Homo sapiens: one gene and its partners. The protein of the gene in region 3 interacts with the protein of the main gene of each other region in a pairwise test. Each region holds a gene or a part of one and is shown on either strand. Other genes may lie near its edges.

Region 1 (3,545 bases), on a different chromosome or scaffold from region 3:
GTTCTGCTGTTCTGGAGGGCCTGAGTCCCACCCAGCACCTCATAAACAGGGTCCTCCCCAGGGCTGCTGCAGTAGGCATCAATGCCAGGGTGCAAAATGCCTCAGGGAGCCAAGGCTGAGCCAGGGGAGTGAGAAGGAGCATGTGGAAGTGCGTTTTGGAGAGGCAGCTGCGCAGGCTGTCAGCAGGCTCCGGCCGCTTCTATAGACAGCATGACACCAAGGGCAGTGACCTCATTCCACAGGCTGAGTCCAGCCAGCCAGCCAAGCATCACCAGCCAGACGATTGACCCTAACGGACCAACCAACCCGTAACGACCCCTCCTACCATAACCAGTAGCCAGCCAGCCCATAACCAGCCAACTTATCTATAACCAGCCACCTGACCATAGCCAAACAACCAGCCGGCCCACCAGTAGCATTCAGCCCCTCAGCTGGCCCTGAGGGTTTGGAGACAGGTCGAGGGTCATGCCTGTCTGTCCAGGAGACAGTCACAGGCCCCCGAAAGCTCTGCCCCACTTGGTGTGTGGGAGAAGAGGCCGGCAGGTGACCGAAGCATCTCTGTTCTGATAACCGGGACCCGCCCTGTCTCTGCCAACCCCAGCAGGGACGGCACCCTCTGGGCAGCTCCACATGGCACGTTTGGATTTCAGGTTCGATCCGACCGGGACAAGTTCGTCATCTTCCTCGATGTGAAGCACTTCTCCCCGGAGGACCTCACCGTGAAGGTGCAGGACGACTTTGTGGAGATCCACGGAAAGCACAACGAGCGCCAGGTGAGCCCAGGCACTGAGAGGTGGGAGAGGGGGGCGAGTTGGGCGCGAGGACAAGGGGGTCACGGCGGGCACGACCGGGCCTGCACACCTGCACCATGCCTTCAACCCTGGGAGAGGGACGCTCTCCAGGGGACCCCGAATCAGGCCTGGCTTTTCCCCAAGGGAGGGGCCGTGCCCACCTGAGCACAGCCAGCCCCTCCCGGTGACAGAGGTCACCATTCCCGAGCTAATGTGGCTCAGGGATCCAGGTTAGGGTCCCTTCCCGGGCTGCACCCAGCCGTCGCCAGCTCCATCCCTGTCACCTGGATGCCAGGGTGGTCTTAGAAAGAACCCCAGGAAGTGGGAGTGCCCCGGGTGGCCGCCTCCTAGCCAGTGTACATCTTCACATGAACCCTACCTGAGGAAGCCAGTCCCCGACGGCATAGCTGCATCCGCTTGGAATGCTTTACAGGCATTGACACCTTCGCCTCACAGCAGCACTTTGGAACCAGTGTCCTCATTATTCCAGGGCACGGCTGGGGAACAAGGGGGTCCTCAGCCTGCTGGGTCCCACAGCTAGTACCGGGCAGGTGGACGGGAGCTTCTCCCCACAGTCACCCTGATGCCCCGCTCTTGCTCGGCTGGAGGCCTCGGATCTCCGTGGTGTTGAGGGAGCCGGGGCACTGGAGCCCTGGTGACCTGCATCTCCTGGCGGAGCCGGGAAGAGCTCATGGACTGTCACAGATGGACAGTGCCCCGCGGGGGCTGGAGAGCAGAGTGGGGCTGGAAGGTGGAACTCTTAGCCAAAGTCTTGGTTTCTTTTGGCCAGGGTCCTCTTTCAATGGCTGGAGAAGGTGGTGCTGGGGGGTGAACGCTGACCTCCTCATGTGCTGCCCCTCCCTCGCCTGGGCCCGGTAAAGCCCCCACGTAGCCCCAGCCAGCCTGGAACATGCTTCCTGAGCTCCCAGCTCTTGGTCTTTGCACCCAGTGGAGGAGGAGGTCAGCCCAGGGAGCTGAGTCTGCGGTTTAGGGCGTCCAGGGGACGTGGAAGCATGTGGGTCGTCTGGCCACATTAGGTAGGGCTGCAGAGACCTGGGCTAGAGCAGTCCTGCGGGGTCTGGAAGGGGAAGACTGGCTGAGGTGCGGGGCCTGGTCTGGAATGATCCTGCGATTTTGGAGTGAAGCCATGGAGCGGGAAGAGACAACCCCCCGCGGGGAATAGCCCGGCAAGTGGCCACGAGGCCAGGCTGAGGTCCAGAGAAGCAGGGGCATGAATCCATAAATCCCAGGGGGCCTGGCCATGGGATGTGCTGGCTGCACCCGGCCCCTGTGAGAGCCCCCGCAGGCTGGCCCCCTTCTGCAGTCAGTGGGGCTGGGGCAGCTTCTCTGGCATGGGGCGAGGCAGCCGCCTGCACAGTGGCCCCCCTGACTGTGCGCCCCCACCCTCTCCAGGACGACCACGGCTACATTTCCCGTGAGTTCCACCGCCGCTACCGCCTGCCGTCCAACGTGGACCAGTCGGCCCTCTCTTGCTCCCTGTCTGCCGATGGCATGCTGACCTTCTGTGGCCCCAAGATCCAGACTGGCCTGGATGCCACCCACGCCGAGCGAGCCATCCCCGTGTCGCGGGAGGAGAAGCCCACCTCGGCTCCCTCGTCCTAAGCAGGCATTGCCTCGGCTGGCTCCCCTGCAGCCCTGGCCCATCATGGGGGGAGCACCCTGAGGGCGGGGTGTCTGTCTTCCTTTGCTTCCCTTTTTTCCTTTCCACCTTCTCACATGGAATGAGGGTTTGAGAGAGCAGCCAGGAGAGCTTAGGGTCTCAGGGTGTCCCAGACCCCGACACCGGCCAGTGGCGGAAGTGACCGCACCTCACACTCCTTTAGATAGCAGCCTGGCTCCCCTGGGGTGCAGGCGCCTCAACTCTGCTGAGGGTCCAGAAGGAGGGGGTGACCTCCGGCCAGGTGCCTCCTGACACACCTGCAGCCTCCCTCCGCGGCGGGCCCTGCCCACACCTCCTGGGGCGCGTGAGGCCCGTGGGGCCGGGGCTTCTGTGCACCTGGGCTCTCGCGGCCTCTTCTCTCAGACCGTCTTCCTCCAACCCCTCTATGTAGTGCCGCTCTTGGGGACATGGGTCGCCCATGAGAGCGCAGCCCGCGGCAATCAATAAACAGCAGGTGATACAAGCAACCCGCCGTCTGCTGGTGCTGTCTCCATCAGGGGCGCGAGGGGCAGGAGGGCGGCGCCGGGAGGGAGGACAGCGGGGTCTCCTGCTCGCGTTGGACCCGGTGGCCTCGGAACGATGGGGTCGCCTGCGTCCCTTCCTTCTCCTGAGCTCAAGCGCCTCCCTCCACACTGGGCTGGAAGGAGAGGTTTTGGGGGCAGAGCCTCTGATGGGAAAGGGACTGGGGAGCGGTTCCGAGAGCTGGGGGCGGGGAGGGACCTGGAAGGGGCTGCAGGGAATGGAGGGAGGCCGGGCTCCTTTCTCTGTCCGCGCCGGCACCGGGGCGGGACGCCAGCCCTGGCCTCCTTCTGCGGGGCCGTCCGGTTCTCTCGGGGTCTGCTGGGTCGTCCTGTTCTCTCGGGGGTCCTGCTGCCTTCGGGGCTGGGCTTTAAGGGCACTCGTGCTTTTGAGGAGCTGGAACTCGGCAGCTTCCCCTGGGCAACCCATCATGGCCCCGAGCTGGAGGCGGAAGCTCGCTCTGTCCCCTCCCGGGACCAGACACTGGGCGGCCATGCCAGACCCCGCCACGGGGAGGGAGACTCGGCCTGGGGGGCCCTGGCTGCCTGCTGCGC
Region 2 (3,651 bases), on a different chromosome or scaffold from region 3:
ATCAGTCGATTGAGTATATCTTTCTGTATCTTGTTGATAAAACAGTGATGTTGACTGTATGTGGCCTTATTTTAAATCACAACTATGGAGGAGCGCTGTTGTTTATAATTAACAAAGAAGAATTGACAAGAATTAGCTTTGTCCATGCCATCTTTAGACAATCATCACCTTTTGAATCCAGGGCAAATCATTCAGCAGAGTGTCCTATTTTCTCATTTTTGCCCTGTCTTTTGTAATCATCAGCCATTTGTCACTGATATTATTATGAATGTTGGCATGCCTGGCGGATGTCATGGTATGACCGATTCTCAGAACGACTACAAAAAAGGACTTCTAGCAGCATGAGTATAAAGGAGAAGTTACCTGTCTGAATGGCTGTGGGTTGCAGTAGCATTTTAGCTTGCGAAAATATTGAAAATAGAAAAGAGACTCATGCAGATTGCAAACCATATTTGTTATATTTATAGGGTCCGATTAAAGGAAGATTTGTAGGGTATGTTTTAAGAAATATCAAAACCTAAAGTAGTCTTCGTGGTTAGAGGAAACGCTTTTATGGTGTGTGTGTGTGTGTATGTGCATGTGTGTGTGTGTGTGTGTTCTTGTGCATACACACGTGTGTACATGTTGGATTTCTACTTATGGATTTCCTGTTACTGACAGATCTTTCAAGGTCCTTTAGCTAGAGAAATCATGTGTTTGAGAGGCATTTATTTTCACTGGAGGCAATCCTGATTCTGGTATTCCATTTTATTCAGGGCATCCTAGATACTTCAATCAACTTTCTACTGGTTTGGATATGGTTGGATTAGCAGCAGACTGGCTGACATCAACAGCAAATACTAACATGTAAGTAGCCAAATGTGTTTTTATGTAATTTAGGATAATTATTAGTGACATTCCATAGTCTTTACATCTTATGTGAAAATCTGTTTTTTATTAAGTAGCCACTAAAATAGTGATACAAACTTCTGAAGTGTGAGTGTTCACTTTAATGTAACAGAAAGTAGTCCTGATACATCTTCCATGTAATCAAACTCTACAAAATTTTTAAAATACAAAAGAGACTTTTTTCTCACGTTTGATTTATTATTGTGCATAATGTCAAAGACAAATGGGACCAGATATTATATTTTAAATCATGTTACTCTGCAATATTTTTTATTTATTCAATACAATAAATTCCCCTCGTGCATTATGTCAGTAGTTGGAGCTCTTGACTGTAGGGATATAGAAAAAATAAACATTTTGGAAGGCCTTTTTGAAATAATTTTCTCTCTGCTTAATGTTATAATCATAACACTTGTAAATGTATGTTTTGAAAAAGGAAATAGTTCTGTAGCTATTGTAATGATTGTAAATTATTTATCTGAGTTACAGAGGTAAAATGTGGCCATTACTACATTTCAGGTTCACCTATGAAATTGCTCCAGTATTTGTGCTTTTGGAATATGTCACACTAAAGAAAATGAGAGAAATCATTGGCTGGCCAGGGGGCTCTGGCGATGGGATATTTTCTCCCGGTACATGATATTTCAACTTTCTTTGTGTTTTTTCTTCTAATATGCAATGCCTTGTTGTAAACCTAGGGAAGATTAAAAATCTAGCCTATGCCTCTGCTTAGGTTAAATAGACTGTGTGTTGATCAAAAGAATGACTGTGATTAAGTGCACATGACCATTGAACATGCCTCCAAGCTAAGTAACCCATGCTTGAACATCAGTTATTTGTGTGCAAAGTGAGCATAATCAGAGATGGTACTTACCCAGTGCTTCTACTGTGACCCTACAAACAGGATGTACGGATAATGTGGAACAAAGGAATCAAGATTCCTAATCAGGAAATTCACTCTCTGATGCTCTTCCTAGAATTAGTGAAAGGAAATGGGTAGCCTCATTTAATAAAGCATTTGCTGTTCAAGGGTGCATAGCAAGGTATATCTACTCAGTAGAGCATATGGACCACTCTGTCTTTGAAATAACAAGCACCAAAGTGGATTTACACTAATTTCAAGGAGGACAGAGAACGCTTTGGGAGAGAATTTCTTAGAGCAAAAATAGAGGGTGACGATTTCTTCAAGAGATTTCTCATCCCTTCTCTTCTTTATCATGCCATTCAGTCTTTTCCATCCTGCCTTTTTATCACCAGCCATTGAATTCTAAGCTCCATTACTTAGACCTCTTCCAGCCAAGAGAATCAACCTGAAACAAAAAGCTGTGCCCTTGGTTTACAGTTCTGTGTGTGACCTTGGTTTGATGCAGAAAAGAAATAGAAGTTAGGAAGGCAATGCAAAGAGAGTCACTGACCCATGGAAAAGAAACCCGATGTGCAGACCATCAGCTAATCAGTGGCAGGAGCGGATGTCATTAGTCCACTGAGACAGGACCCACCTGAGAGAGAGGCCAGAGCAACACCTGTCGTTGTGTCAGACAGAGCAAAGGCCAAGTGGTTGTGCTCTCTCTTCAGCAAATCTACAAAGACAAGCAAATGATGAGGCGGGGATAGGGGAGAAAAGAAAAAGTGAAAAGAAGAAATGATAAGCAAGAGTGACCCCAAGGCCAGGGCTTAAGTTAAGCATGTTTGCCTGCAAGCTCTGGTCAGCTATTTTATGTGTTTAAATATATAGCACAATTTTTCAGGTGCTGAAGGAAAAGGTGTTAGTTAAATGGAAGGGAAAATTAGCCTTTTAAAAAGTCATTGAACACCAGCTGTGATGAATTTTAAGCTAGCCTTTATTTTTTATGGCACTTAGTACTTAGTTTTCCTTTGGAAAGCCATCCCTGTTGAGGGAGCTTGGTCATCATTGCCTGATGCTTTGAAAACATTGTTCATGAGGAATGAGGTGGGGTACAGAGATCCACATCATTTCTACCTTTCTTCTTCCCACCCTTGTGTGGTTGGTTATAGGATTGATCTGTCCCTGAGATGAATCAAGAACATGCTGGGCTCTATTTTTTTTTCTTTTATTTGCATTTATTTTATGCTGAATTTATTCCCGTGCATAAGTTTTAATGGTCCCCGGGAGTAGGGAGAGGACAGATGTACCTGTTGACCCTGAAAATTTGACTAATTTGACTAACAGCTAGGCCTAATTTACCTGGCTGGTCTGAAAAACCTACATGCCCCAGAAAACATACACCCAGAGAAATAATTCTCTTAGGCAGTTCTGCTAGGCTTAGAGCTTACCCTCCACCCTCACTGATAATGGGGGATTTTCACATGGAGAAGACTTCAGCTTGAGCATGGGAATTATAGGCTTCCTTGGAGCCTAAAGACCCATTTGCTCTTACGCCAAGATGCAAGCCATAGATGTCACACTACAGTGCAGTGCAGACATTGCAAAGTTGGGAGGAGACAGCAGAAAAGGTCATTGCAACCTGTTTCTGCTCTACTTTCTACAAGACATCACAGACGAGAAGTGGCTCATCACATCCTTACTGGCTATGGATGCTATTCCCGGGAGCAACCAGCCTTGCTCCTGCAGTAAAGGGTCTTACAATTTAAGGGGTGGGGATAGAGAAAGCCACACATCTTATGCATCTGGGATCTAAAAGTCTCATTCCCTGGGACTCAATGTGAAGAGTTAGGTCTGTGACTTAAAACATACTGTGTCATAGCTCCATCAATAATATCCAAAGCCTTCATGCTTCATGG
Region 3 (3,651 bases):
ATTTTTGGAAACACTTGTCAAAATTATAAACGCCCATGCCATCTGACCTAGTGATTCCATTTTTAGGAATTGAACTTGTTGTTAAACTTGCATATGGGCACAAAGATATATGTACATTATAGCACTGTTCGAACTGTGAAAGAACAACTTACATGCTTATCAAAGGGGGACTTGTTAAGTGTCTTATGGTACTTCCAGAGAGTCAAATAGCGTCCTATTCATTCATGGAAAAAAGAATTAGTAAGTTTACTATATAACTGATATGGAATGATTTCCAAGATATATGGCTAAGTGGAAAAAACAACATGCCTGGAGTGTTTATAATATGCTGCTGCTCGTGTTATACAAGAGGAAGGAGAGTCTTAGGGTATTTGCTTGTCTGTGTATAACTATAGACACAAAACCTAATCATACCTGTTACCTCCAGGAAAAGTGGCCTGTAAACCCTTTTGTACCTTTTGAATTCTGAACCATGGGAATACGTTAACTATTTTAAAATTCTCTTTGTCCGTCCTGTGCCTGGTATGTTCCCTCAAACACTTTTCCAGCTTAACATTGTGGGGTGACGTACCCCACCCCCTTTTGGTTGCTTGAGAGGTTCCCTTTGGATTAAAAGCCAAAGGGCTGTGAGACTGCACAGTGCCCATAGTATCTGGGCCATCCAGTATTCCTTTGAAATATACAGAGTTGTACTTGGAAAGCTGGGGAGAGGTGTCTTTGGACAGCAGGCTCTCTGAGCTGGGTAGGCAAGTTATGATCATCCAGCCTTGAAAACAATCTGCAGAAATAGAAACCACCCCTTTCTCTATTGCCCTAATGTTCCCTTGTACAGGATAAAGTGTCAGCGACTGGATAGGATTGGGTAAAGGAGCAAGAGGAACACTGTGACTGGACATCAGAAAGGGCAAAAGATACGTAGGAGGGCTATTTCTGGTGTTGCATTTGGACCTCAAAAAGGTGAAGAGAGAGATGCTTGGAAAAAAAAAAAAAAGGTTTGACATTATCCTAGAGTCTAGGGCTGTATTGCCCCAGAGAAAGAAGGAAGATTATTGGCGCAGTTGTCACTGCATCAATCAGTGTGTCCTACATGCCCCTTTGAGCATTTCTTATCAGCACAGATGCCCGGCTCAGTTCCCCCTACTTCCAAGCACCCATTTTTGCTGATCCCTCAGCCTGGAAGCCGATGGATACACAAAGGGGATGGGGGAGATATTAGGTACTGCCTTTCTTTTTGGGGTGGGTGATGGGACAGGCTGTTGAATAGCAGAAACAATGGAAGAAGGACTTGCTTCCAGCCACAAAAGATGGGTCCTCCAACACCATTAGGTGGAAAGCCTTCATTGAGAGCTTTCTATGTTTCAGTCACTCTGCTAAGCCTACACTATTTCATTGAATCTCTTTATCTCGGGTATATGTGAGAGCCCAGGCTCTTTGGTATCAAGCAGCATGTCTTTCTGCTCTCCCTTCACTGACTTTTCCATTCTCTACGCAGTAAGCTGCAGCACAGGCGCAACTGCATCACATGGGTGCTTACAGACCTGGTTTTGGGTTATAACAGTATGTGGCTGAGCATTGCATGCTTTGATGGATCAGTTGAAATTTCTGCAGTATGGATAGATTTGTACAAGGCACAGTTCAGAAACAAAGCAGTCAGTGTTCTGGGTTTGGATTTCCATTTCTCTTATTTCTGTTTCTGTGTGTGCATTAGGGCTGGGGCTGAGTAGACTGTGCATGTGATGTTCCTAGGGAAAGGGGGAGGAGGGGGAGGGGGAGGGGGAGGAGGAAGAGGACTAGGAGGAGGGCAGCTTCTCATTGCTTTGGTCCAGACACCAGTGGTGTGGAAGGCTGTGAAGATGAGCTTGTGAGGCCCTGTGTCTGCACCCAAGGAGAAAGGTCAGCAAGGTGGCCACTAAGCCCCAAGTCTGTGCTGGGAGTCTGTCTGTTGTTTGGAAAAAACAGCCTGAGACCTGAGAGCCTCTCTCATTGCAAACCTCCTCCCTCTCATTAGCCAGGGCTCACCTCTGACTCCGTTTCCACTTCAAAAGGAAACAGCTCTAATTTTCCCCAAATAAATTCTGGAACGCACAAGGCAGCTGCTTTTTCTTGTGCTGCTGTTGCCCACAGTGGTGGGAGCAAGAAGCTGGGTTGGGCTCTCAGGTAGGGCTGCCAGAACCCAGCAAGGAGAGGTAAAGTCAGGGAGCCCTATTAGTTTTTAAAAAAAATCACCTTAGGCCAAAAATAAAGATGTTTACATAGTATACAAGTAGTGGAGGACCAGTTTAACCACATCAAATTCAGAAAATGTCTGTTGTCAAAGCCCTGAGAACACAGAAGGATGAGCAAGGCATGGCCCCCAGGTTCAGGTTGCCCACGGGCAGTGCGGGAGAGGAACATTCACATCACCAGCAGTACTCTGCAGACTAAAGAAGCAAACACTAAGTAGAGGAGCAAGTGACATGCTGTCAGGTGCACAGGGCTAAAGTGAAGCAGAGACTGGCCCAAGGAACTCTGATAAATTATTAAGTCCGTCTTGGAGAAGGTGATTTTTGAACTGGGCCTTGAAGGTAAAGTAGTGATTTTGATACATAAGCTCAGGAGAAAGGGTGGAACTCAGACAACAGGTTGGGCAAAGACACAGGGTTACAGTAGAATACAGAGTGTTTTAAAAAGCCTTAGTAATTCGTCATTTACCTAACTTCTGCCACAGACATAATACGTGTCATTTTTAATTACTTGTAACATGAAACGTTTATATCCCCATAAAATAGTCAACTATGATTTTTCATGTGTGTGGTAAAATCAACAGGTATTGACAACAGGCATGTGAAATCAACATTTCTGTTGTATTTAAATATCCAGCTACTGTGTCACTGTGACTATTTCAGTGGGAAGGTAGCAGAACACTGGAGTAAGAGTGCTGGTGATGAGGATTCGAGTTCTGCCTCAGCATTTTATTTGTTTGTTTATTCTCTCATTCATCTACTCTTGCATTCCAAAAACATGATCTTTGTGCCTGGACCAAGTGGAGGGCTGATGATGGAGAGAGAGAAAAAAGGAAAAGCATGGTCTCTATACTCCCCAGGGACTCACAGTACATGGAAGAGATCACAGAAGAAGGTGGTAACCATCATAAAAGCAGGGATAAGGGGCTGTGGGAAAACCTAGTGTGTGCTCAATAAATAATGGTGGCTATAATGAATAAACAGCATGATAAGCAGTAGCAGACACCAACAAGAAGACAAATCAGAGGACTAAAAAATATTTCTCTGGATTTGGCCAGTGGGTCTCAAAAACTTGTTTATGTCATAAAACCCATGGAAACTGTGGGGCTTTTTGGAGAATACCATGAATTATTCATATATTAAAATAACTAAAAATAGGCCAGGCGCGGTGGCCTACGCCTATAATCCCAGTACTTTGGGAGGCCAAGGCAGGCGGATTGCTTGAGGTCAGGAGTTCGAGACCAGTCTGGCCAACATGGTGAAACTGAAACCCCACCTCTACTAAATATACAAAAAATTAGCCAGGCATGGTGGCATGTGCCTGTAATCCCAGCTACTTGGGAGGCTGAGGCAGGAGAATCGCTTGAACCTGGGAGGTAGAGGTTGCAGTGAGCCGAGATCATGCCACTGCGCTCCAGCCTGGGCAACA

The links.
Region 1: the proteins of FAM163A (region 3) and alpha-crystallin A2 chain interact in binary tests that used the Homo sapiens proteins (3 or more experiments, as listed by UniProt).
Region 2: the proteins of FAM163A (region 3) and GAD2 interact in binary tests that used the Homo sapiens proteins (3 or more experiments, as listed by UniProt).

What each region holds. Positions count from the first base shown.
Region 1 is NC_000021.9:6,561,551-6,565,095, forward strand, and holds the end of alpha-crystallin A2 chain, read left to right. Parts: intron 1-369; exon of another isoform or gene 370-465; coding exon of another isoform or gene 466-543; intron 544-650; coding exon 651-773; intron 774-2,204; coding exon 2,205-2,414; 3' UTR 2,415-2,939; downstream 2,940-3,545. UniProt on the Homo sapiens protein: Contributes to the transparency and refractive index of the lens. In its oxidized form (absence of intramolecular disulfide bond), acts as a chaperone, preventing aggregation of various proteins under a wide range of stress conditions.
Region 2 is NC_000010.11:26,223,132-26,226,782, forward strand, and holds part of GAD2 (glutamate decarboxylase 2), read left to right. Parts: intron 1-755; coding exon 756-846; intron 847-1,407; coding exon 1,408-1,520; intron 1,521-3,651. UniProt on the Homo sapiens protein: Catalyzes the production of GABA.
Region 3 is NC_000001.11:179,746,191-179,749,841, forward strand, and holds part of FAM163A (protein FAM163A), read left to right. Parts: intron 1-3,651.